Linked DNA regions of Homo sapiens. Changing the gene in region 3 together with the main gene of any one other region gives a genetic interaction. Each region holds a gene or a part of one and is shown on either strand. Other genes may lie near its edges. The genes, in order: INA, SMARCB1, PTP4A3 and DAPK3.

Evidence for each region.
Region 1: changes in PTP4A3 (region 3) and INA together harm fitness less than expected from each alone (positive genetic interaction), as found in Homo sapiens cells (one study listed by BioGRID).
Region 2: changes in PTP4A3 (region 3) and SMARCB1 together harm fitness less than expected from each alone (positive genetic interaction), as found in Homo sapiens cells (one study listed by BioGRID).
Region 4: changes in PTP4A3 (region 3) and DAPK3 together harm fitness less than expected from each alone (positive genetic interaction), as found in Homo sapiens cells (one study listed by BioGRID).

Annotation. Positions count from the first base shown.
Region 1 is NC_000010.11:103,280,112-103,287,145, reverse strand, and holds part of INA (alpha-internexin), read right to left. Parts: intron 112-7,034; coding exon 1-111. UniProt on the Homo sapiens protein: Class-IV neuronal intermediate filament that is able to self-assemble. It is involved in the morphogenesis of neurons.
Region 2 is NC_000022.11:23,783,155-23,789,999, reverse strand, and holds the start of SMARCB1 (SWI/SNF-related matrix-associated actin-dependent regulator of chromatin subfamily B member 1), read right to left. Parts: upstream 3,035-6,845; 5' UTR 2,831-3,034; coding exon 2,738-2,830; intron 1-2,737. Other genes in the region: MMP11 (stromelysin-3 preproprotein), read right to left, coding at 6,456-6,589.
Region 3 is NC_000008.11:141,387,347-141,395,020, reverse strand, and holds the start of PTP4A3 (protein tyrosine phosphatase type IVA 3), read right to left. Parts: upstream 3,001-7,674; 5' UTR 2,937-3,000; intron 2,614-2,936; exon of another isoform or gene 2,400-2,613; intron 1-2,399. UniProt on the Homo sapiens protein: Protein tyrosine phosphatase which stimulates progression from G1 into S phase during mitosis. Enhances cell proliferation, cell motility and invasive activity, and promotes cancer metastasis.
Region 4 is NC_000019.10:3,957,922-3,961,102, forward strand, and holds the end of DAPK3 (death-associated protein kinase 3), read right to left. Parts: coding exon 3,088-3,181; intron 2,184-3,087; coding exon 2,138-2,183; intron 1,717-2,137; coding exon 1,180-1,716; 3' UTR 532-1,179; downstream 1-531. UniProt on the Homo sapiens protein: Serine/threonine kinase which is involved in the regulation of apoptosis, autophagy, transcription, translation and actin cytoskeleton reorganization. Involved in the regulation of smooth muscle contraction.

The DNA.
Region 1 (7,034 bases), on a different chromosome or scaffold from region 3:
CTCAATGTCAAGAGCCATTTTGACATTGAGCAAGTCCTGGTATTCCCGAAGGTGGCGTGCCATCTCACTCTTGGTGTTCCTCAGATCATTCTCCAGCTGCCCAATGCTATCCTGAAAAGTAACATATCCAAAATAGTTAGGCCAAACCAGCTGAAATTCCTCAAGATTTCCAGAAGGCAAGGATTCCCAGCCCTGACTACACATTAAAATCATCTAATGAACTTATAACTTGCTTATATCCAGGTCTGTCCCTGAGTCCAGATCCAGATTCACTGGTTCTGGGGTGGGGTCCCAGCATTTGCATTTTTTTCATAAAGGTCCCCAGGAGATTTGGACTCATGGTGAGGACTGGGAACTTTTACCCAGAGGGCAAGTGAACACCTGCCCTTTTCAGGATAGCCACACGGCATATAGTTCTGAACTGAACATGGAGATGATTTTTTTTTTTTTTACACTTACCATCCCTCCCTTGCTTGTTGTGTTGCTGCTAAATAACTCTGTTGTAGCATGTGCTTTCCAAAACCCAAAGCCTCAGGTTAGCAGCTTAGATTCAGAAAATTCCGAATGTGGAAAGCACAGAGAGCTTTCCAGGAAGACCTCTCTGCCTCCATTCATTTTGATGATTTCCTAGAAGCCTGCTAATCAGTCACTTTACTGAGAGCATTTTACATTATAGGTAAGGAGAAAGCAGAAATACTCCACAGAATTTTTAAAACACCGAGGCATGGAAGAGAAATCGCTTTATATTTATATATTTATAGTCCTTGAGCAGCCAGAAGGAATTCTTTTTTTTTTTTTTTTTTTTTTTTTGAGACAAGGTCTTGCTCTGTTGCCTAGGCTGGAGTACAGTGGTGTGATCACAGCTCACTGCAGCCTCAAAATTCCTGGGCTCAAGCGATCTTCCTGTCTCAGCCTCCCAAGCAGTTGGGACTAACAGGTGTACACTACCATGCCTGGCTAGTTAAAAAAGATTTTTGTTTTGTAAAGATGAGGTCTCATTATGTTGTCCAGGCTGGTCTTGAACTCCTGGCCTCAAGAGACACTCCTGCCTTTACCTCCTAAAGTGCTTAGATTACATGTATGAGCCACCATGCCCAGCCTGGTCTTTTCTTTTACTCCTTAACTATACCAAGTTCATTGCTGTCCCAGGCCCTTCAGGCTTGTTATTTCCTCTATCTAAAATGCCGGTCTTTACATGGCCGACTCCTTGTCATAGAAGATTCAGTTCACCCGGGTGTGGTGGCTCACACCTGTAATCCTAGCACTTTGGGAGGCTGAGGCAGGCAGATCACCTGAGATCAGGAGTTCAAGACTAGCCTGGCTAACATGGCAAAACTCCGTCTCTACTAAAAATACAAAAATTAGCTGGGTGCAGTGGCATGCACCTGTAATCCCAGCTACTTGGGAGGCTGAGGCAGGAGAATCGCTTGAACCCAGGAGGGGGAGGTTGCAGTGAGACGAGATCGCGCCACTGCATTCCAGCTGGGCAACAAGAGCGAAACTCCATCTCAAAAAAAAAAAAAAAAAGATTCAGTTCAAATGTCCTCTCCTGCCAGGCATGATGGCTCATGCCTGTAATCCCAGCACTTTGGGAGGCTGAGGTAGGAGGATCACCTGGAGTCGGGAGTTCGAGACCAGCCAGACCAACAAGGAGAAACCCCGTCTCTACTAAAAGTACAAAAATTAGCTGTGTGCAGTGGCAAGCGCCTGTAATCCCACCTACTTGGGAGGCTGAGGCAGGAGAATCGCTTGAATCTGGAAGGCAGAGGTTGCAGTGAGCTGAGATCGTACCACCGCACTCCAGCTTGGGCAACAAGAGCAAAACTCTGTCTCAAAAAAGATTCAGTTCAAATGTCCTCTCCTGCCAGGCACGATGGCTCATGCCTGTAATCCCAGCACTTTGGGAGGCTGAGGCGGGAGGATCACCTGGGGTTGGGAGTTCGAGACCAGCCAGACCAATATGGAGAAACTCTGTCTCTACTAAAAATACAAAAATTAGCCGGGCGTGGTGGTGCATGCCTATAATCCCAGCTACTAGGGAGGCTGAAGCAGGAGAATTGTTTGAATCTGGGAGGCGGAGGTTGCAGTGAGCCGAGATCGTGCCATTGCACTCCAGCCTGGACAACAAGAATGAAACTCCATCTCAAAAAATAAAATAAAATAAAATAAAATAAAATATAATGTCCTCTCCTCAGACAGGTCTTCATTTGCATCCAATTTAAGTATCCATCCTCGACCAACCCAGCACTTTATTTTACCTTAAGCCAGAGCAGCTACTGGCCCATGCAGGAACCTTGTGCAAATTAGAAAAAAAGCACTCAGTTGAATGCAGCCACCCTGCTCTCAGCTCTTACCATTATATGAAATTATCTTCTTCTTTTTTTTTTTTTCCGAGATGGAGTCTTGCTCTGTTACCCAGGCTGGAGTGCAGTGGCGCAATCTCAGCTCACTGCAACCTCCACCACCTGGGTTCAAGTAATTCTCCTGCCTCAGCCTCCTGAGTAGCTGGGATTACAGGTGTGCACCACCACACCTGGCTAATTTTTGTATTTTTAGTAGAGATGGGGTTTCACCATGTTGGCCAGGCTGGTCTTGAACTCCTAACCTCGTGATCCGCCCGCCTCAGCCTCCCAAAGTGCTGGGATAACAGGCATGAGTCACAGTGTCCGGCCCCGGCAATTTACTGGTTTATACTAGTTTATTTTCTGTTGCTTTCCTCTATAACAGAGTTTTACAACTTTGGCAGTGTTGATGTTTTAGGCTGGCTAATTATTTGTTATTGTGAAATGCGGGATATTTAGTAACATCCCTGGCTAGATGCCAGAAGCACATACTTCCCTCTCCCAGTTGCGATAACAAGAAAACATCTCTAGGGCATCCCAGCACTTTGGGTAGCTGAGGCAGGCGAATCACTTGAGGCTGAGCTGAGAGAATTGCTCGAGCCCGGTAGGCGGAGGTTGAAGTGAGCTATGATGGCGCCACTGTGCTCCAGCCTGGGCGACACAGCAAGACCCCGTCTTAAAAAAAAAAAAAAAGACACAATGATTGGGGGTTATTTTTAAGAAACAGTCATGCAGGGCCGGGCATGGTGGCTCATGCCTGTAATCCCAGCACTTTGGGAGGCTGAGGCGGGTGGATCACCTGAGGTCAGGAGTTCAGGTCAATCAAGAGACTGAGACTATGCTGGCCAACATGGTGAAACTATGGTCTCTACTAAAAATACAAAAATTAGCTGGGCGTGGTGGCGTGTGCCTGTAATCCCAGCTACTCTGGAGGCTGAGGTAGGAGAATCACTTGAACCTGGGAGGCAGAGGTTGCAGTGAGCTGAGATCGTGCCATTGCACTCCAGCCTGGGCAACAAGAGCAAAACTCCATCTCAAAAAAAAAAAAAAAAAAAGAAACAGTGATGCAGATAAACATATCAGAAACCTCAAGAAAGTAAGTGTTGACAGGCCCTTGAAACTCCCCTTGTGTGAGAATGATAAAGCAATGGTGAAAGGTAGGGCTGAGACATCAGGGGGTACAAACTTCCAAATCAAGAGAATTTGCAGAATTAAAATTCATACCACCTACCTGTTCTATAAATATTGACAGGAATACTGCAAAGAGGAGTCTCAATTGACTGATGGGTACAGAACAAGGAATGACAGTCAGTAGGAAAAATACGTATTATACTGGACCGTGATGCATATATTTCAAAGTGTGTTAAGAGATCATGAGGCCTTAAAGAGATTTTTACCAAGAAATTTTACCTGATAGTTCCTATTTGAGGTTATAATCAATTCTGCTACTGACATAGAATCACTGACATAGACCCTCTAGCTACTGACAAGAGAATCAATATTACTGTGGTAAGAGGGAAAAGAGTCTAGAGTGAGGGAAAAAGGAGAAAGAAGAAAATATGATTATGCAAAGAAGGAGGAGGAATGCTATATGAAGATAAGAGGAGGATTTCATCAGGAACTTGGGTTGCAGTTTTTGCTCTGCCACTAACATCCATTGGACCTCAGCCAGTTTTCTACATTTTAGTTCCTTCCAATCTTCTACTTCTGCATACGGAAAGTTATGTTTACTCTTTTTCTAAGGTGTTCTGAGATCCTCAAATTAGGATTTCAATTTAATATATCTCACATATACATTAATATATGATGAGTCCATTATCTGTTAAATTAGTAGGCATCAGAACAGCATGGCACACAGGAAGAACTCAATAAATGTTAGTGATTTTTATTCTTGATAATATCATACCACATGGCCCTCTATCCTTTTGATGATATAGACAAATTAATCACAAGCCCTCACTATTACCAACCCCTTAGATAACTACGAAAAGTAACATATAACAACACTTTAATATTGGATAGTTGGAGGCATATACCTTAAAGCACCAGATTTTTTTTTTTAATAACAATTTTGAATAAAAAGCCTTTCTAAAGTGGCTTATACCACTCACAATCAGGACACTAAACATAATGCCACCTTCCACAGCAATTAAGGGTCATGATAATAATCAATTTTAAAAATAATTCGGTGACATCTTTTAGGTCATTCGAGGTATATCAGGCTGTTTAATTCTACCCTAAATGGCCCCAAAGTGCGGTGTTTGGATTAGTGTTGATGCTCATTGATTTTCTTTGTTCTGAAAGATGAACGGATCTGCTGCTGCTCATTCTTAACAATGCCTGACTCCAGTGGTCCCCATTCTCCATCTTGCTGCAGTCTTGAAACCAAATAAAAAAGCATTTTGAAATCGTGTTAAGAATGAATAGGCTGGGGGCAGTAGAGGTGCCAAGTTCCTAATGTTTGGCTTAGAGATAGATGATATGTCTCATCAGCAGGTTAATTAGGTCCTTGCTTAAAACATTATTTTTGTTTCACAGCTGTGTTTTCTGAATAAGAGGTGGTTGGGGAGCTGAGTTCTAGACAGATGAGATTTCCTTGAACTTCTATGTTGCAGATTTCATATATCTATTTTACAGATCACTGTAGAGAAAAGCACAACTTTGCTCCTTTCAGAAGGAAGTGTGCTGTGTTCTGACCATTGATTGCTCTTCAATGTCTGGTCTCTTTGTTTGTGCTCTCCTCCCCACATCAGGCTGTGTCTTGCATTGCCCTTCAGAAGCCCTGCCAAAGATGGCCTCCAGCTCGAGATCTGAGCAGAGCGCTGCAGTCTGTCCCCTCCCCCAACCACGCAGCTGCTGCCGGCTTAGCCTGAGGGAACCGGAGAGCGGCACGCCCAGCTCCAGCTGGGGTCTCTCCTGGAGGAGCTAAGACAAACGCTGAGCATCGTCTTAGCTCGTCTGAGCATCGCAGCCCGTGGCTGGAAGGATGCCGGGTGGAGTAAGAGAAATGAATGGCCACACTAACATCTGCAGTGGTGAAGAAGAACGACAGAGCTGTGGATTTCAGCACGTTTGGGGGCCCTGGGTCAGGGAGGCAGTAGTGAGTGCCCCACAGTCTGATTGAAAGAGGCTATTTAGAATTACTGCTCTGCATAATCAACTTGAGTGGGGACGGAGGATTTTTATTTGTGGTTCACCATGCGTGCTTTATTCTCACTCCTACCTTTCCTTTGTCCCCATCTTTTTCTTTCCTCCACCACACTCGAAAATCCTGTATTATACGTATCTCCGTAAACTACTTTACTGGAAGAAGTGGTTTAGATCAATGTACTCCAAAGTCAGTCTGAGGACCAACAGGATGCAGCACTTTTATTGAAAAATGCATATTCCCGGGCCCTACCTGTGAACTGCTGAATCCATATCTTTGGGAGTGGGCCTGATAATTTTTTTAAGCCCCCAATTGACCTTAGAGTGTCACTGGGTTTAGGATCCACTAGTTTAAATTTTTTTCTATAAAGATGCTATCATGGTAGCCCAGGTGACAGTAATACAGTAAGATAGGGAGGGGCAAACAAAACAAAATGAAACAAAAACCAGGTGGAAGAGCTTAAAAAAGATCAAATGTAGCTAATTTTAGAAATGGATCTATCAAGCTATGGATTTATATGCAGCCACTGTCACCTCCAGTCTCCAAGGGGCCAGCCCCTTCCTGCTATTTAATTAGGCTGTACTCCAATCTCATAATGGAGAAAAAAGAGAAGACTTGGCTTGTCTCCCTGGAGAGCATTAACCTGCGGTGATCTTGATCATTCAGCAAGGTCTTTCAAGGAAAGCTTCAACTTTCCAAGACTGACCACAGTAGAGGTCTGAGACCCTGAGTACCCTCCAAGAATGTCTTTGGACATCTTTAACAGAACTAGGACTCTAATGGTGCCGAAGTGGCTATGTAGGCACCAGCATTGCCCTATGTCAGAAATGGAAACCCCATCAGCTTTTTATGCAGAGGGGAGTTGCATTTGGCTTTTGAAGACAATAGCCTTAGCTCTTCCTAATCTCTTCTCTTGCCTGATTCAGACTCTCTCATCCACTATTGTGTACTTACTGTGTCACCGTGAATCATTTTTTACCCTTTCAAAAGTGTAAGAAGCTTTCTCTCCTTAAATAGGCTATCAGCTATCTGGGGCAGAGAAGATGGGACTTTAATGGGGCCTTCCTATGTTTCATAGAGGGTGCCAAGTTTGAAAAGAAAAATGGCCCTACCACTAATCTCTGTAGCAGAAGAAGGAGAACAGCCTCCCATTACTGCAGTGAAAGGTGGGGATGAGATGAGAGGGCAAGAAAACAATGGCTAAATCTCACTGTAGAAAGGGAGGCTTTTCACCTTGGTCAGCACTGCTAAGATTGTTAGAACAGTCAGAGACACCCTTGTGGCATCAGGCCGTTAGGATCTGCAGGTAAGACTTGAGCTCCACCTTAGCCTTAGGTCCCAAGGAGTAGGGAACCAGCTCTCTGTTGTCTGACCTCCTCTTCCACTCCCATCAGCAGGTCCTCTGTGGCTCTAAAGGCTCAAGCTGATGGGGGCAGCACCGCAGAGCTGCAGATGCTGCAGTTTCTCTGTTGTTGTTTTTTGTTTGTTTCCTGTAGACCATGTCTGGATGACGCTACCATTGTCTAATGATGAAAGCCTTTTAC
Region 2 (6,845 bases), on a different chromosome or scaffold from region 3:
CCGGCTTGGTAAATACAGCTGTCTGTTAATGGCAGAACAGTGACACACACTCTTAGTAAATGCAGATGCCTTCCCAAGACAGCTCCACAGATGGCGCATGGAGGCACTGGGTATGTTGCTATGGCTGGCCCACCTCTCTGAATACAGTGCCTGTTTTCCACAGGGCAGTGGGCTGAGACCGTCCATCCACTACTATCACTGGAGCTACTGAATTTCAATAGAGCTCTGACCTTGAACTCTTCCCTAAACTCCGAAGGTCTGATGATTAAGTCAGGCCCAAAAGAACAAACTGCCTCTCCAACTGAGTCTCTTACAGCCTGGGTCTCAGGAAGATTATTCTTACTGGGAGGCCCAGGAGTCAAGGGGCTGAAAGACAAGACTGTAATTAGCTTTCTAGAAACTAAAATGTGTTTTGGGGAAGATCTTGGAGACCATCTAGTCTAAGCATCACATTATACACATGAGAAACACGACAGCAAGGCAGAGCAGGGCTGGAACCAGGCCTCCCAAGGTTCTTCCCACTTGGCCACGCACAGCTTCTCAATTTGCTCCAACTAATAAATGAAAGCTTTCTTTTGAAGTGTCACCTACTTAGAGCCAAACTGATTACTTTTACACCCATTAGATCAGGTAAACAACTCGCCTAGTATCACAGGCTGAAATTTGACACCTTTTGCATTCTGCAGTTAGGCAGGTGCCTACTGGCCAATGAGGACCATTCTGAACTGTGGCAGATGGACAGGCACTGGCTCTACCTCCCCAGCACTGGCATCTTTGAACAGTTGTAATTTAAGTGACAACGTGAAAATTTTATTGAATCCTATATTTTTTGTTTTATAAAAATTAGTGGAGGCCAGGCACAGTGGCTCACGCCTATAATCGAGCACTTTGGGAGGCCGAGGCGGGCAGATCACTTGAGCTCACAAGTTTAAGACCAGCCTGGACAATATGGTAAAACCCCATCTTTACTAAAAATATAAAAATTAGCCGGGTGTGGTGGTGTGTGCGTGTAGTCCCAGCTACTTGGGAGACTGAGGTGGGAGGACGGCTTGAGCCTGGGAGGCGGAGGTTGCAGTGAGCCGAGATTACACCACTACACTCCAGCCTGGGTGATAGAGTCAAACCTCGTCCAGAAAAAAAAAATGGTGGAAAATGCTAACACTAAAGTTCTGATGCTATTGACCTTAGTCTCATCCATGGGACTCAGTGTGACCATCTTGAGGCTTCATTCATTCATGCTATGCTCAATTGTGAAGGATAAAACCCACAAGTTTAAAAAGTATGAATGCGCTGAGTGTGAGTGCAGTAGCTCACACCTGTCATTCCAGCACTTTGAGAGGCTGAGGTGCAAGGATCACTTGAGCCCAGGAGTTCAAGACCAGCCTGGGCAACATGGCAAAACCCTGTCTCTACAAAAAATACAAAAATTAGTCGGGCACGGTGGTGCACACCTGTAGTCCCAGGTACTTGGGAGGCTGAGGCAGGAGGATCGCTTGAGCCCAGGAGGTCAAGGCTGCAGTGAGCCGAGATCACACCACTGCACAAAGTGAGATCTTTTTTCAAAAATAAAAGAAAATAAAGTACGAATAAAATGCTGGAATATGATACTAAAAACTGCTATAAGGAGAAGAAACTCTTGGCATTTCATGATAGCTTTAATTCTCCAGGATTGGCACTTACTTCCTTACATGAGATTCTACTGCTTGACATTTGTACATCTGAACTGTATATCCATAATTTTTTTAAAAAGGTAACATATACTAGCTGGGGACTGCCTTTGGAGCAAAAAAGGCTAGTTTGAGACAATCTGTAAAAACCTAATATATGGCCGGGTGTGGTGGCTCATGCCTGTAATCCTAGCACTTTGGGAGACCCAGACGGGCAGACTGCTTGAGCCCAGGAGTTGGAGACCTGCCTGCGCAACATAGCCAGACCCTGTCTCTATAAAAAACAAAAAACAAGAACCTAATAGACTTGGAACAAACACCCATTCAAAGGCCAGTAGAGTTTTCCTGAAGTCAGTCATCCAGTTGATGCAACAAAATGCAGCCACTCTAGTTAAGGGTTAAACATCCTTAGGCTCTTTCCCCTGTAATAATTCAGAATCAGTTCACAGATATGGAAAGTGTCAATCGCTTCAGAACTGCTGAAAGATCTAGCTTAGGCATGGGGCCCTTATTCACCCAAAAGCAAACATCTTCCTCCAATCTGTTTCTTCACCGGTAAACAAAGGTCAAAAGACCTCCACTGCTCACCTAAGAGGCAACAAACACAATGGGGATGAGCCCTCACTAAGTCCAGGGTTTCCAGCCTGCCATTTGAGGTTCCCACAAGTAGCAATACGGGGAGGGGTGCACGTGAAATTTACGACATCTAAAAAGGGTCAAAGGCAGCAGTGCAGTCCCCCAAGCGTCGCAGGGGCTAACTCAATATCCCGTTTCTTTGCGTCTGACTGGAAACCAACCCAGCGCGGAACCACTGGGGCCCCTCGCGGCGCCAAAATCTTGGCAGCACTGAAGGCGGCGGACCTCGGCGAAATAAGTAAGGAAATCCCAGGTCGATGAGGGGGCGGGGGCCACACCCGACACGCCCACTAGGCCACGCCCCACAGCCCCGAGCGCGCGCGCGCGCGCCCGCCCGCCCCGATGAATGGAGACGCGCGCTCTCGGCGCATGGGCCCGCCCCGGGGCTCCCGCGGGGCCGAGCCCGGGGAGGGCGAGAACGCGCCCCGGGCTACCTCGGAGCCGATCATGTAGAACTCGCCGTCGTCCTCCAGCTGGAACTTCACGGGCTTCTGCCCGAAGGTCTTGCTCAGCGCCATCATCATCATTGCGGCGGCAGAGGCGGGCGGCCGGAGCCGGGCTGCGAGGGATCAGGAGGGCTGGGGCGGGGCCGGGGCGTGCTGGGCCGAGGGAAACCGAAGCCGGAAGGCGAAATGCGGACCGGGCCGGGTACTGGCGCCTCAGCCGGGCTCCTCAGCCGCCGCCGCCGCCGCAGACGACGACCAGGCCGCCCTCAGTGCGCAGGCGCTGGCGTTGACGCTGACGCGCGCGCCGCCGCTCAAACAAAAGGCCGGGCGCGCCTCCGCGGACCCCTTAAAGGAGCCACGACTAATTTCTCTTTCTCCCAGGCTGCCTCCCAAGTCGTGGTGTAGAGGACTTCTCACGGACAAAAATAGCCAATGAGGTCCTGACTCAAGCAGTGGCTTTCCCAGTCTTACAGCCAGGACTGGAACTGAGCCCAGGGGAAAAGCAACGAAGTGAGGCCTGAAGGAGGAGGACCTAGTATCTGGAAGCCTGGGTGGTCTGGGCATGCTTTGGGACCCCAATCTCGTGCCTTAGCTTCCCCACCCCTAAAACGCAGTGCAGCTGAGCAGATAGGCAGGCCCCTAGGAAGAGATATCCCAGTTCCGGGCCTACGGCTGTCCCTGCAGCTGTGGAGGTGGGCAAAATGACAACAGCGGATGAGGCTTGGCAATGTTCAAAGGCCCAGGTGGTATTTGGTTTGGCTGGTGCATCAGATGAGCGTTGGAAGGGAGAGACACCTTCCACCTTCTCCATTCCTCTCTTAGCCTACACTCTGCTTAACCGAGCCCTGCAGTGGGGAGTGAAACCAGGCAGCCCAGCCCTGTGGCTCTGCCTCTTGGCTCTTACAGCGCGAAGCTAGTGAAACTAATGAAAGTCTGAAAGCAATCATGATTGAATAATGCAGGGAGTAAAACAGTGGCCCACTACTGATGATTTCACACCGTTCAATCTAATGAAATTGCAGCTGTGGCTGGGCTCAGCGGCTCATGCCTGTAATCCCAACTCTTTTTTTTTTTTTTGAGGCTGGAGTCTCCTGCCTCAGCCTCCCAAGTAGCTGGGACTACAGGCACCCGCCACCACGCCCAGCTAATTTTTTGTATTTTTAGTAGAGACAGGGTTTCACCATGTTAGCCAGGATGGTCTCGATCTCCTGACCTCGTGATCCGCCCCCCTCGGCCTCCCAAAGTGCTGGGATTACAGGTGTGAGCCACTGCGCCCGGCCTTGTAATCCCAACTCTTTAGGAGGCCAAGGCAGGGAGGATCACTTGAAGCCAGGAGTTTGAGACCAGACTGGACAAGACAGCAAGACCCTGTCTCTACAAAAATTCTAAAATAAATAAGCTGGGTGTGGCATGGCGGTGTGCACCTGTAGCCCCAGCTACTTGGGAAGTGGAGAGGGGAAGATCCCTTGAGCCCAGGAGTTCAAGGTTATAGTGAGCTGATTGCACCACTGCACTGCAGCCTGGGCAACAAAGGGAGACCCTGCCTCTCTTAAAAAAAAAAAAAATGCAACTATGCTATTACGAAGACACACATGGGGCTGGAAGGTAGGGCAAGGAGACACTGGAGAGTTGGGAAGGGCAGTGACTGAAGTTGCTTTGTTCTGTATCCTCACAGTGGTGGGAAACCAAAGTACAGTCATCCCTCAGTATCCATGGGAATTGGTTCCAGGACCCCCTGCAGATAATAAAGTCCACAGATGCTCAAGTCCATTATATAAAATGGTGTCATACTTGCATATAACCTACACACACTTTCCTGTATACCTTAAATCATCTCTAGATTCCTTATACTACCTAATACAATGCAAATGTTATATAAATAGTTGTTATACTATTGTTTAGGGAACAATGATAGGGAAAAAAGTCCGTACATGTTCAGTACAGAGGTAACCATCCCTTATTTATTTATTTATTTATTTATTTATTTACTTATTTTATTGAGACAGAGTCTTGCTCTGTCGTCCAGGCTGGAGTGCAGTGGCATGATCTGGGCTCACTGCAAGCACCGCCTCCTGGGTTCACGCCATTCTCCTGCCTCAGCCTTCCGAGTAGCTGGGACTACAGGCGCCCGCCACCACGCCTGGCTAATTTTTTGTATTTTTAGTAGAGACGGGGTTTCATGGTGTTAGCCAGGATGGTCTCGATCTCCCGACCTCGTGATCTGCTGGCCTCAGCCTCCCAAAGTGCTGGGATTACAGGCATGAGCCACTGCACCCAGCCTATTTATTTACTTTATTATTTTTTTAGACGGAATTTTGCTCTTGTCACCCAGGCTGGAGTGCAATGGCACTATCTCAGCTCACTGTAACCTCTGCCTCCACGTTCAAGTGATTCTCCTGCCTCAGCCTCCCAAGTAGCTGGGATTACAGGCATGAGCCACCACACCCAACTAATTTTTGTATATTTAGTAGAGATGGGTTTTCACCATGTTGGCCAGACTGGTCTCAAACTTCTGACCTCAGGTGATCCACACACCTCGGCCTCCCAAAGAACTGGGATTACAGGCACGAGCCACTGCGCCCGTCCGCATCCTTTTTTTAAACATTGTTTTTTCTACCCGAGGTTAGTTGAGCCTACGGATGCAGAAACCACAGCTATGTATGGCAGGCTGGGCTGTGGCATGAGCAGATAAACCACCACTCTGGAGGATGAACAGAGGGGACAAGTAGGAAAGTGGGGAGCCAGTTAAGAAGCCACTGTAGCAAAATGTGATGTAGAAATGGAGCAGAAGGAGCCCTGAGCACTGTGCCCAGCCCCAAGGGCCAGAGGCTTGGGGGTGGTGGACTTCGACCCTGGCTCCCAGGATAGGGCTGGACAGTGGCCAGGCCTCCCCATCCTGGCTGAACATTCACAAAAGGAGACCAAGCAGGCAGGTAGAAAACAACTGTGTTTAATGACAATCCTCAGTTTAAAAAAAAAAAAAGAAGAAGAAGGTTTATACACACTGTACACACATTTACAATGGCTTTGGAGGATAGCAGTGCTGCGAAAAGGGCTTCAGGAGGATCCGGCCTGGGACAGGATTGAGGTATGTTGCAGCCTCCAGGGCCTGGGGTCTCCTGCATGAAGAATACCCCTCCCCATTTGACTGTGAACTTTTTGGCCTGGATTCTGGAGAACAGATTTCCAGGATTGTCAGCCAGAAGGCAGACAGATGCAGGCACCTACCAAGACCTGACCTCAGGAAGTGGCCCTGCCCTACAGCCCAGTTGCTCAGCCAGGGCTGAAGGCCATGGGGCCCCAGCACCCTTGCTTCAGTGCCAGCCCCTGGAAGGAACCTCACAACAGGGATACAGCAAGGACACTCCAGTTCCCCCAGTCCTGCCATGGTGCTACCCTGAGGGACAGGGATGGAGACAGGGCAGCCAGGTTTGCCAGGACCTGCATAGCGGGCCCAAGACTGCCCTTCCTCTTAAGTCATGCCAAAGCCTCCCTGCCCAGTCTGAGACAGTCGCTGGCAGGTGACCACGACCTGCGTGGCCCTCCCGGCAGTTGTCATGGTGGTTGTACCCCACCCCATCCCCCTGAGGAGACATGGGCTCAGTCCCATGCCTGGTGCCCACAGCCACAAAGATGGCCATGGGTCTCTAGCCTGATATTCGTGGCCTGGCAGGGGTCAGCACCCCTGAGGGCATCCAAGCCATGGTCAGAGGAAAGTGTTGGCAGGCTCGGCACAGCCAAAGAAGTCAGGACCCACGAGACGGGGGAAGCCTTCCAGAGCCTTCACCTTCACAGGGTCAAACTTCCAGTAGAGGCGGCCGCGCAGGAAGTAGGCATAGCCTGAGAAGAGAAGGTGGTCAAGCCTGGGCGAGCGGACACTGGGCCCTACTCCTGCCTGTCAGGCTGTGCCCAGGGATGGGCACTAAGGGAGGGCTGAGTGGGAAGCCCTTGGCCACTGCTGAGTTCCTCGAGTCCTGCAGGATCCAGGGCCGGCCTTTCAGAACCTCTCTTCCCTCTAGGGAGCCCTTCTGCCTGCCCCGGAATCTGGGCTGGGCTAATACCCAGCCTGACAGGTACCCAGAGCCTCAGAGGCCTG
Region 3 (7,674 bases):
CCCTGTCCCCGTCCCACCTTGGGGAGGCCCCCCTCTCTCCAGGGAGGCTGGCCTACCCGACTGGCAGGCGTGGGGCACACTCTGGGCCGCCCCCAACCGCACACACCCAACTCGCGGGGCGCCGAAGTCAGGCGGCGGCGATGCCAACCCGACCACGTAACTGTGCGAAGTGCAGTACCTCCTCCTGCAGCCCACAGCCACTCCCACCCAACTCTGAACTGTGCAGAGAGGACGGGGCTCATCGGCCCTCGGACCTTGCCCAGGTCCCTGCCTATGGGTCCTGCGAGCCGGTCCAGGTCAGAAGGAGGGATGGGAAGTCTTTTTTACCTCACACATGTTCACCCGTGTGACCAAGCTTCACCACTGTCCTGCCAGGAAGACCTGTCATTGCTCCCATTTTACAGGTGTGGAAACGGAGGGGCAAGAAACCAAGTATCCAGCAAGACACTGGGAGGCCAGGCCCTCCTGCCTCTAGCCCAGCCTCGGGCTGCTGCACTTGCTAGGAAACACCACTGCAGGCAGGGAGGGGTGCCAGGGACCAGAGGGAGTAGGTGACAGCAAGGGCGGCCAGGGTGGAGGTGGGGAGAAACGGTGCTCTCGAGGTGAGAAAGCGCCCTGGGGTGGTCTGGGACAGTGACCATCTGGTTACAGCCTTTGGTCAGATTTGGGACCTTCATGGAACAAGGCAAGCCCAAGGTCTTGGGGGGCGAAAAATCACCACTATCTGCCAGCCCCAGGCCCAGGAGCTCCCAGCTCAGCCCCTCTGGCCAAATGCCACCTGGACACCAGCCTGGTACACTTTCCACTTAACTCACCCTTTCGCCAGGACCTGCCAACCAGGGAGAGGCCTCCCCAAGCTGTATCACCGCCATCTGGATGTAAGTCCCTAAGGAGGTCACGTGCATAGGCATTGGGCACCAGCGGACACTCTGCCCACCCTGGCGGTGAGAGGGAGGGCTCACACCAGCTTATGCCCCCCTCTCAGTCTGACTGTGTGCACCTCTGCCCAAGTCCTCAGCCAGTAAAGTCACGTCTGTGTAGCTTGGGAGTAGTTACACCACAGAAATTGGCCAATGCCAATTCAGGATTTGGTTAAGCATCTGTTAAGCATGCCCTCATGTCATCTTTGAGCCCAGCCACCCATGGTGCCTCCAAGACCTCCTCGCCATCCAAACTGCCCACTTGTCTGAGAAAGCTGCCCACCTCCCGGCCTTCCTCCTGCCTCCCATGTCCAGTGCCTGACTGCATCAGCCAGCCACCCTCACCATGTTCTGGGCTGTTACTTGGGACAGAGAGGGGACCAGCTGAGGCCCCCAGCCTTACTCCAGTGGTCAGCGCAAGCTTCCGGGAGGAGGGCAAAGGCAGAGAGGAGCAGGCAGCTGAGGAAACCACCTGGAGGCTGCATCTCATCCCCGCCTGCATTTTCTCCCATCACGCCGACTGCCTGCGGGGGCCTGTCCGCAACCTGCCCCGCTCAGCCAGCCAGCCATGCCCCATCTCCAGGTCCAGCATTGGGCCTGGCACAGAGTAAGTGCTTGGAGAACACGTTGGGGGTGTTGAGGGGTGACCAGCTCCCTAGCGGGGCTATTTGGAAACAGCCCAGGAATTCCTACACAGGGCAGCTTCTCCTCCTTCGTAACCACAGTGAGGGGGGCCGGCGTGGTGATGGGGAGATCCCCAATGCCTAATTCCACTCAGGTGACAGGTTCGGGGCCCATTTACAGCAGCTCCAACGCCCCCTTTGCAGATGGGGACAACAAGGCTCTGCTTAGCCCCGCAGGCTAGGGGCTGCACCAACTCCACCTTTGTGGGCCTCAGTCTCCTCATCTGAGAAATGGGGTTAACGAACTTCTTGGGAGGATTGCAGGAACTCAGTGAAGCACGGCTCTGCACAGGGCTGCCAGGCGGCTTCTGTCTGTGCAAGGCCACAGGCACCCTGTGTTCAGTGACCTCCTCTGGTCTGCAGCCGAGGACACTGCTCCAACCTGGGAGCAGGGCCCCCAGGGTCCACAGACTAGGTGGATGCCCAACACCCACCATCGTGTGCGGGGCACACCCCAGAGCCCGCAGGCAGAGAGAGGGGGTGCAGCACGTGCCTTTCTGTCTTGGCTGAGGGTGCCCGGGCACACACTGTGACCAGCTAGCCTGGACCTCACGCTGCCCTTGGAGCCGCTATCACAGAGGGCCAGGGAAGCCTCCCTCATAAAGGGCTTCCCTCCGGGAACCGGCAGGGTGAAACTGCTCTGCCCACTTGGAGCTAAGCATGCCACCACCCCACCCCTGGGCCACCAGCTGCCCAGGGGCGTGTCAGGAGTCACCCGTTTAATCCCTGAGGCACGTGGATCAAGGCTGCTGACCTGATTCTACCGGGGTGTGCTTGGAGGGCTGAGGCGCCGCCCGAGTCCCAACACTGGTATGGTCTGAGGCGGACTCCACCCGGCCTGAGACCTGACGCTCTGCTTTCCCCTGACCTCCACTGACATCTACGACCCGCCCTGGAGGCACGGAAGGCTGTGGGGTTCCAGCCCCCCAAACTGTGCAGCTGAGGAAAATGAGCCGTGAATGGGGGCAGAGCCAGATCCTGGGCGGGACCCTGCGCAGGATGAACTCAGGGTAGGAGGTCTCCCGCGCACCCAGAAACGGGAGCGGGTCACCCCCTTCCAGCCAGGGGTGTTCTGTGGCTCGCCTGGGGAAACAGCGGCCTCCTGAGGCTCGGCCCCGGCACGTGGCAGCCTCCAGGCCCACGTTCCCGCCGGATCGGCCGCCAGGCGCAGGGTCCCGGGACGCGCGGGCAGGGGGAAGGCGGCGGCCCTCCCGGCTGCGCGGCCCCGAAGCCGTGCCCGGAGCGGGCGGCGGGCTCGCGCGCGGACGGCCCCCCACGCGCCTCCACAAAGCGCCGCGCGCCCCCGCCCCGAGCGGGCGCGGAGGAGACTGACCTGGCGGTCCGGGCGGCGCCGGCACGACGGGTGGAGGGCTCGGGACGCGCGCGCCCTCGCGCACAGGCGCGGCCGCGGCTCCACCGGCTTAGGGCGCGCGCCGGACCCGCTGGGTCACGTGGGGGCACGGCCCAATGGGAGCGCTCCCCACGCCGCGGCCGCGCGCCCGCCGCCCCCGAGGCCGCCCCTGGGCTGGGAGGAGGCGGCTCCGGTCGCGCGGGCGGCCTCGGGGACTGACCTTGGCTCCTGTGCCTGCCGGGCGCCTAGGCCAGGTCGGCCTGGGGCAGGCGGGCGTCGGAGGGGCAGTTTTGAAGCCCGAGCGAAGAGGCAGAGGGCGGGATGCGGACGAAGCCAGGGAGTTCACGAAACTTCTGGAGTTCTCAGTTTCCCCCTAAGTCGACTGGGGCTAGGTCCCGTGCCGCCAGGCGGGCTGGCTGAGGGGATGGGCTGGGGCGACAAGACGGCAGCCGCCTGGCCCGGGTACTTGGGGTCAGACCGGCTTCGAGGCCCCCGGACCGCCGTGTTATCAGGACGGGTAGGGAGCCCACGGGACGCGTGGTGCTCAGAAGAGCGGGGAGGCGTGTGGACGGGGCCTGCCCGAGCTGCACCACCGCCTGCCTCCAGGCTGCGAGGCCCGCCCAGGCGAAGGCGGCATCTCAGCCTCTAGCCCTTGGGGACCTTGAGGACGTCCTCTTATGGGTCAGCCGTTCCTAGGGAGGCTTGTGGCTCCAGTTACTGGAAAAACCAGTGCTGGTTCACGCAGGAGGCCCCAGTACAGGGGGAAACAGAGGCAAGCTGGGGTCTCCCAGGCGGCCTCACCCACCCAGCCCTGTTCCATGCCAGTCCCTGGACCCTTGGCCCAGTCAGATGTTCAACTGCTCCAGCCCTGCCTCCACTTCCCTGAAAGATGCTTTTCCACCCATCCACCCTCAGCAGCCAGAGGGACCCCGGGAAGATGGGAGTGAGAGCTGCCTTCGTCTGCAAAAGTCTCCAGACACCACCTCACTGGTGAAGGCCAGAGACCCTAAACTGTCCCAAGACCACCTGACTGGGCTGCCTCCCTGCCACCTGGCTGCCAGCCTCTCTCAGAGCGCCTGCAAGCTATTCCTCCAACCCAGAGTTTCCTTCCCAGCTAAAGGCCTTTGCACCTGCTGTTCCTTCTGCCTGGAAGTTCACCGCAGACTATCCCAGGGCCTCCATCCTTCCCATTGCATGGTCCCCATCAGCTGCCGCCGCCTCTGAGAGCTCAGTCTCCACTGGCCATCCTGTCTCTCAGCCCACTGCACTCTCCACTCTGCCAGAAAGTCCCCCAATCAGTGACAACACAGGTCACGGTCCACACCTCACCTGGTTTGTCCCCAGTGCCCAGCATCTGGCACCGAGCAGGTGCGTGCAAATCCTGGACAGGTGGGCAAGCTGATGGTGTCCAGAGGCCCCTGGTCCTTAAGGGCAGGGGTGGGGATGGCTCAGAGGACATAACCTTGCAGACCCGGGTTCAAATCTGGGCTCCTCAGCTCATTTGGTCCTCACACAGCCCATGTTGGGAGAGCTAGTGTTCTCCCTGTTTTGCTGATGAGACACAGAGAAGGTCAGCAACTCCCGAAGATTGCCCAGCAAGTTGGGAGTAAAGCTGGTGCAATTCCCACGTTTAGCTGCTAAACAGGGTGTCCTGTACTTGGTGTGTTCAAGCAGAAATCCACACATGGGAAGGTCAAGGCAACATCCCTGGTACTCCAGCTTTGAGGTCCTAGGAAAAAGGGAACCTCCCATTAAATGCTTCTATTGCCGGGAAGTTCAGCACCTGTAAAAGCAGCCCCTTCCCGTTTCACTGTGGCTGCATTTTAATTCTTATTTTTTAAATGTTTAGCTTAAGGCCGGGCACAGTGACTCACACTATAATCCCAGCAATTTGGGAGGCTGAGGCGGGAGGATCACTTGAGCCTAGGAATTCAAGACCAGCCTAGGTAACATAGTGGGACCCTATCTCTACAAAAAATAAAAAATTAGCCAGTCATGGTGGCATGCTCCTATAGTCCCAGCTTGGAGATTGAGGTGGGAGGATCACCTGAGCCTAAGAGGACAAGGCTAGAGTAAGCCCTGATCCCGCCAGCACCCCAGCCTAAGTGAAAGAGCGAGAGCCTGTCTCAAAAAAGATAAAAAAAAAAAAAGCATTAATAAATAAATGTTTGGCTTCATCTAGCCTGAGCAGCACCAACACCCCCTGCCTGTTTCATGCTATTTTCCTCCTCTCCTGCCCAAAATCTCAGAGAGGTTTCTATCCCAGCCACCCAAATTTGCTGGGGTGAGTGGGCTCCCGAGAGGCTGGAGCCTCCTTCCTCCCCACGCTCTTACCATCCTGCAGGGAGTCGGGAGCAAAGGAGGAGGCTCCTCCATGCTGGATTCATTTCAGTTCTCAGACATTCACCGAGTGCTGACCACATGCCAGGGACTTACACCCACCCACCAAGTCCACACTGAGCCCTGCAGAGGAATCCCTGACACCCCCATTTTGCAGATTAGGAAGCAGAAGCTAAGCGAAAGCAGAATCAAGATTCAAACCCAGGCACGGTGAAACCAGAGCTGTCCAACTGCTGTGAGTGGAATGGGCCGGGCATGAACAGGCTTGGGGAGAATCCTGGGATTTCATAGCCGGAAGAGAGCTCAAAGTGATCGTGTTTTACAGAGGAGAAAACGGGGCCTCAGAGATGATGGCTGAGCCGTGAAAAGGTGGGGTCAGAAGCCAGGCCCAGTCTCCTGAATTCCAGACTCCAGAATCTCCCCCAGGATTGAGGAATGTTCCACAGAAAGAATCCCAGCTCCACCTACCCCAGTCACTGGACCTGCCCAGCCCTGGAGGCATGGCCAGGAGGAGGCCCCCGCAGGTGGGGGATTGTTGGAGAGGGATGCCAACCATGCAGGACGATCTAGACAGTGGTGAGGCCCACTGGGGCTGGCAGGATTAGCAGATTAGCTCCAAGGAGGACAAAGACGAGGTCAGCGTTAAGTGGATTTCTGGAAAGCCTCCTCCAGCCCAGCAGGGCCCTACAGGAGGGGCCCAGGCTGGGGGACCTAGATCCAGCCACGGAGGGCATGGGTGGGCTAATGGCACCAGCAGCAGCTCTTGAGCCCCCATCACTGGGCTGCACACTTTGACCTCTCCTGGCCTCAGTTTCCCCATCTATAAATGTCATAGTAATAGCTCCAACCTCACAGGGCTCTTGGGAAGACCCACAAGATGGTGGCTGTCAAGTGCTGCGTTGCTTCTGCCTGCGCAGAAGTAGATGTCTTTATGACTGTCCTTTTGAATCCTCCTCAAGCCCTGAGCGTCAAACAAAATAAAAAAGAGCTTGTTGTTCAGTGGTTAGTTAGGTAAACAGGAGCGGGGTGCAGGAGTATACATCTAGGAAGAGAGTAAGTGTGCGGAACGATGCTCTCTGGGCCACTTCACGTCCCCTCTGTTCCCTGATTTCAGTGGCAGTGGCCCATTCTGAGCGAGCTTGGACCCTCCTCCTCAGTGCCTGCCTTCCGTGTGTACCAAGCCCTGAAGGGCAGAGGAGGGCCAGCCCTCCGCAGTGTGGCAGGGCTCTGGCGGATACACCTGCCTCCCATCTGCAGAAGGACCTTCCTCAGGTGTCCGGCACACTTCTCAGGAGGTCCTGAAACCAGCTGAGACCTCCATAACACACCTGTGTTGGCTCCCTCACCTGGTCATCACAAATAAACCACCTGCACCAATGTCCCTATCTCAGGCTCTGCTATCGAGGGAACCAGCGTAAGCAGCCACGCCCCTGATGCGAAGAGGAAGCAGGGCTTGAGGGAGGCCAGGACTCGGGGGATTGGCGTGCAGGAGCTGGGAAAGTCATTTTCATTTCCCTCCTTCCCCTAGTTTCGTTAATGCAGCCACGCTACTGTGATGGTGACATTTTCATTTGTGTATTAGTTGTGCCTGTAAAACCTGCTCTCTCTCCGCGTCTGTGGTCAAGAGTTCTGAGTGGCTGGGCGGGGCGGTTCTCTGGCTGGGGTCTCATGAGATGCAGTCAGATGGCCAGGGTTCCAGACATGCAAGGGCCCGACTGCGGCTGGGGGATCCCCTTCGGAACCCTCTCACTGTCCCAGCTGGCCAGGCCATGCAGGTTATTAGCTGCTGCTTCAGAGTCTTCCTCAAGACGCCCCTCTGTAGGGATGCTTGGGTGTCCTCCCAGTGCTGGGGCTGGCCTCCCCCACAAGGAGCTACCCAGGAGAGCAAGACACGTGTGATCTGACCTCAGAGGCCACCCAGTGCCACCTCACTGTGTTCTGTGGGGCACCCAGGCCTGCCCTGACTTGGTGTGGGCAGGGTGGGGCGGCTTCCCAAGCCTGCAGCTGGTGCCACCTACAAGGATGAGGGAAGGCCACTGCAGGCTGAGCTCCGGCCCCTTGGGGGCTGGGGTGGAGGTATGGCAGTGCCTGACCTGGACTTCTGAGACCACCAGTGAGGTAGGGTGTGGGAGTTTGGTGGGACACTGAGCTGGGACCTTTGCAGCAGTGGGGCTACCCTAAGCCTGGATGCTCTAGCTGTGTCGCCCATTGGCAGCTGAAAGCGCTCCTGGCTCCCCCTGCCCCTGAGTTTGGCAAACTTTCATTGAGCACCTGTGCCAGGCATCACTGGGACCTGCAGCGGGAGCCCCCCTAGACAGTGCTGCAGCTACTGTCGTGGGGGCATCCAGGAGGCACGTCCCAGGCACTGCATCTGAGCAGG
Region 4 (3,181 bases), on a different chromosome or scaffold from region 3:
GGAGACCGAGGTTACAGTGAGCCAAGATCGCACCACTGCACTCCAGCCTGGGCAACAGGGCCAGACTCGCTCTCAAAAAAAAAAAAAAAAAAAAAAGCAAAAAAACTTCCTCCAGGGAGGATGGACAGGGTCGGGGCCCCTCTCTGAAACCACCTGTGAGCCCTAGCAGCTGAGCTGAGCCGCTCCCCCTCCAGGGCCACCTGCATGTGGCTCCAGACGGGGCAGGGGCTCCCACGTGGGACACAGCAGCATCCCGTAAGGCGCAAAGGGACAGGAAACGCTTCTGATCCACCTCAGCTGCCCAGAGCTTCCACCTCATTGCAATCAAAACACTCGGGGCAGCTGAGACCAAGATCCGGCAGCTCCCAGGACACCGTGAAGGTCTGCGAGGACCCCCGGTTTGTCCCCTCCTTCCTGAGCACAGCGGCAGGCATGGAACACAGAGAGAAACATGAACGCCGCGGAGGGCATATCCCCAGTGGCCAAGGGCTGGCTGTCCCCTGCCAAGGCCTGAGGCACACAACACCCGCGTATCTGGAAGCCAGTATTTTATTTCTCTTGGCTGCAGAGGGCCGCTCTTGCCTAGGCGTCCACAGGCGCGACGATGGGGCTCGCGGAGGAGTCCGCAGCAGGGCACCCCACACCCGGGGGACCGGCCTCGGCGAGAAGGGCACACAGTGGAAGACCCCACCAAGCCCGGCGCCACCCAGCAGCGTGGGGACTGCCTGTCCGCCGTCCATCCCACCCTCCCCGTCCCACGACCTCCTCCTGGGCTAATGGCAGCAACAGGCAGCACCCCGCCGAATTGTCCGTGCAACTACCCGCAAACCCTCCTCCGGGCCTGAACCAGGGCTGCATTCGGGCCGCCTCTGCGCCTCGGTGGGTCCCAACCCTCACGGTGCCACAGGCCACGCTGCCTGGAGGGTCCCAGGGTCACCGACGATGCAGGGGTGAAGGTGAAGGCCAGCGTGGAGGCTGTGTAGAGAAGCAGCCCCGTCCCACACCCACCCCTGCCTGCGAACTTACGGGCCTGGCTCCAGCTCCTCCCACTCCGCCTCCAGCCTGGTGGCGCTGGGCAAGGACAGGCACCCGGGCGATGGGAGGCGCAGCGTCCACAGGAAGCGCCCCCACCGCAGGCCGAGCTCCGGCTGTCCTGGGGCCTGGCCCACCCCACTGCGCCTAGCGCAGCCCGCACTCCACGCCCTGCAGCTTCTCCTGCTCCAGGGCGCGCACGAGGTCCTGCACGAAGCGCATCTCGGAGGCTACTTGCTTGGCCAGCGCCTCGTAGCGGTTCTCCAGGCGGCTGAAGCGGCGCTTGAGGCCGCTGGTCCCCAGCAGCGCGCCCTTGGCCTCCTCCTGCGCCTGCCGCTTGAGCGCCTCGGTCTTGAGCAGCTCCTGCCGTAGCCTCCGCAGGTCCTGGCCCAGGCTGTCGCTCTCCTCGCGGTACCAGGCCTCCTTCTCCTCGTAGATGGCGGCCAGCGCCTCCACGTCCTCGTGGCAGAGCCGCCGGCTGCGCTGCAGCTCGCGCAGGCCCTCCTCGGCGGCCGCCGCCTCCTCCAGCACCTTGGAGAAGCGCTCGAAGTCGGCGTAGCTGTTGTTGGGCGGCAAGCTGGAGTGCGACTTGATGGTGTACTCCTTCAGACGCGTGGTCTTCAGGCGCCGCCGCTCGGGCTTGCGGCCGCTGTCCTCACCACGCACGTTCCGCCGCCGGATCGCCTAGGAAGGAGGGAAGCCTGAGCGGGGTCCCCGCGATGCCACCCAGCCCCGCCAGCCCCCACCTGCCAGTGTGAACTGAGGTTCAGGGGCTCATCCGGCAGCAGAGTCAACGCCTCGTGACGGAGACTGCCCAGCCCGACGCAAAGCCGAGAGTGCTCTCTCGAGAAAAACGCTGCGGCCCTGGCCCCAGGAGTCAGCCCCGTTGGACACACACCAGCCAAGGATGCCACCAGGTCTGTCGGGTGCTGGACATCCCACGCCCAGGACCCAACCCCCGCCACACAGGCTCACTCCTCTGGGGACCCTCCCCAGCCACTGGGGGTTGTCACATCCACAAGCCTTAAATGCTGAAGGCCCCCCGGGACCCCAGCGAGAAGGCCAAGGCGGGAAGCCCAGGGAGCTCCCCCACCTCCCCACTTACCTTAATCCAGGAATGTTCCAGGCTCTGGGCAATGGTCATTCTCCGCCTGGAAGACCCCCGCTCTGGTTAGGTACACCTGCACCATCTGTCCCGTCCTCCCGTGAACAACTGACTCCCGGGACCCCCAAAAGCCCTAAAGTCGCCCCCCAGCCTCTGCTCAGCCAACCACAGAAGCTGAACAAGGGTACTGCAGGGAGCGTGGGGTTTTCTGGGGGGTGGTGGAGAGAGCTGAGACCTCAGGCTGGAGTCGCAAACCCAGGCGCCCGAGAGAGGGACTGGGCGGCCATGGAGGCCCGGGGAGGCCTACGAGTGAGGGCTCAGCACTGCCAGAATTCTAAGTGTTTACAGGAAAACAAGTGACCTGGAATTTTACATGGATCCTTACTTTACACACCGGCAACTAATTAAAAGTTTGCTAAAAACACAGCAAGCAGCCAGACACGGTGTCTCACGCCCGCAATCCCAGCACTTTGGGAGACCAAGGCAGGCAAATCACAAACCAAGGAGGTCAGGAGTTCAAGACAAGCCTGGGCAACATGGTGAAGCCCTGTCTCTACTAAAAATACAAAAATTAGCCAGGCGTGGTGGCGGGCGTCTATAATCCCAGCTACTTGGGAGGCTAACGCAGGAGAATAGCCTGAACCCGGGAGGCAGAGGCTGCAGTGAGCCGAGATCACGCCACTGCACTGCACTCCAGCCTGGGAGACAGAGCAAGACTCCGTCTCAAAAAAAAAGACTCCGTCTCAAAAAAAAAAAAAAAAAAAAACCATGGCAATGGCCAGCTTGGGCCACCAGTTTATCAGTTTACTCTCTCCAGCCCAAGGGGTAAGCAATGTCTGATCCCCAGCCGCAGGGAGGTGGCGCTGGGAGGAGAGTCCTCTGGAGCCTCCGTGGGTGGAGTGGGCCTGTGTCCCATGTCCCACCCCGTGCCCCCTGCCGGCCCCTCGTACTTGGGATCTTTGACGAGCAGCCGGCGAATGAAGTCCTTGGCCAGCTCGCTGGTGTTGCTGAAGTACTCCTCGTCGAAGTCGTAGTTCACGGCTG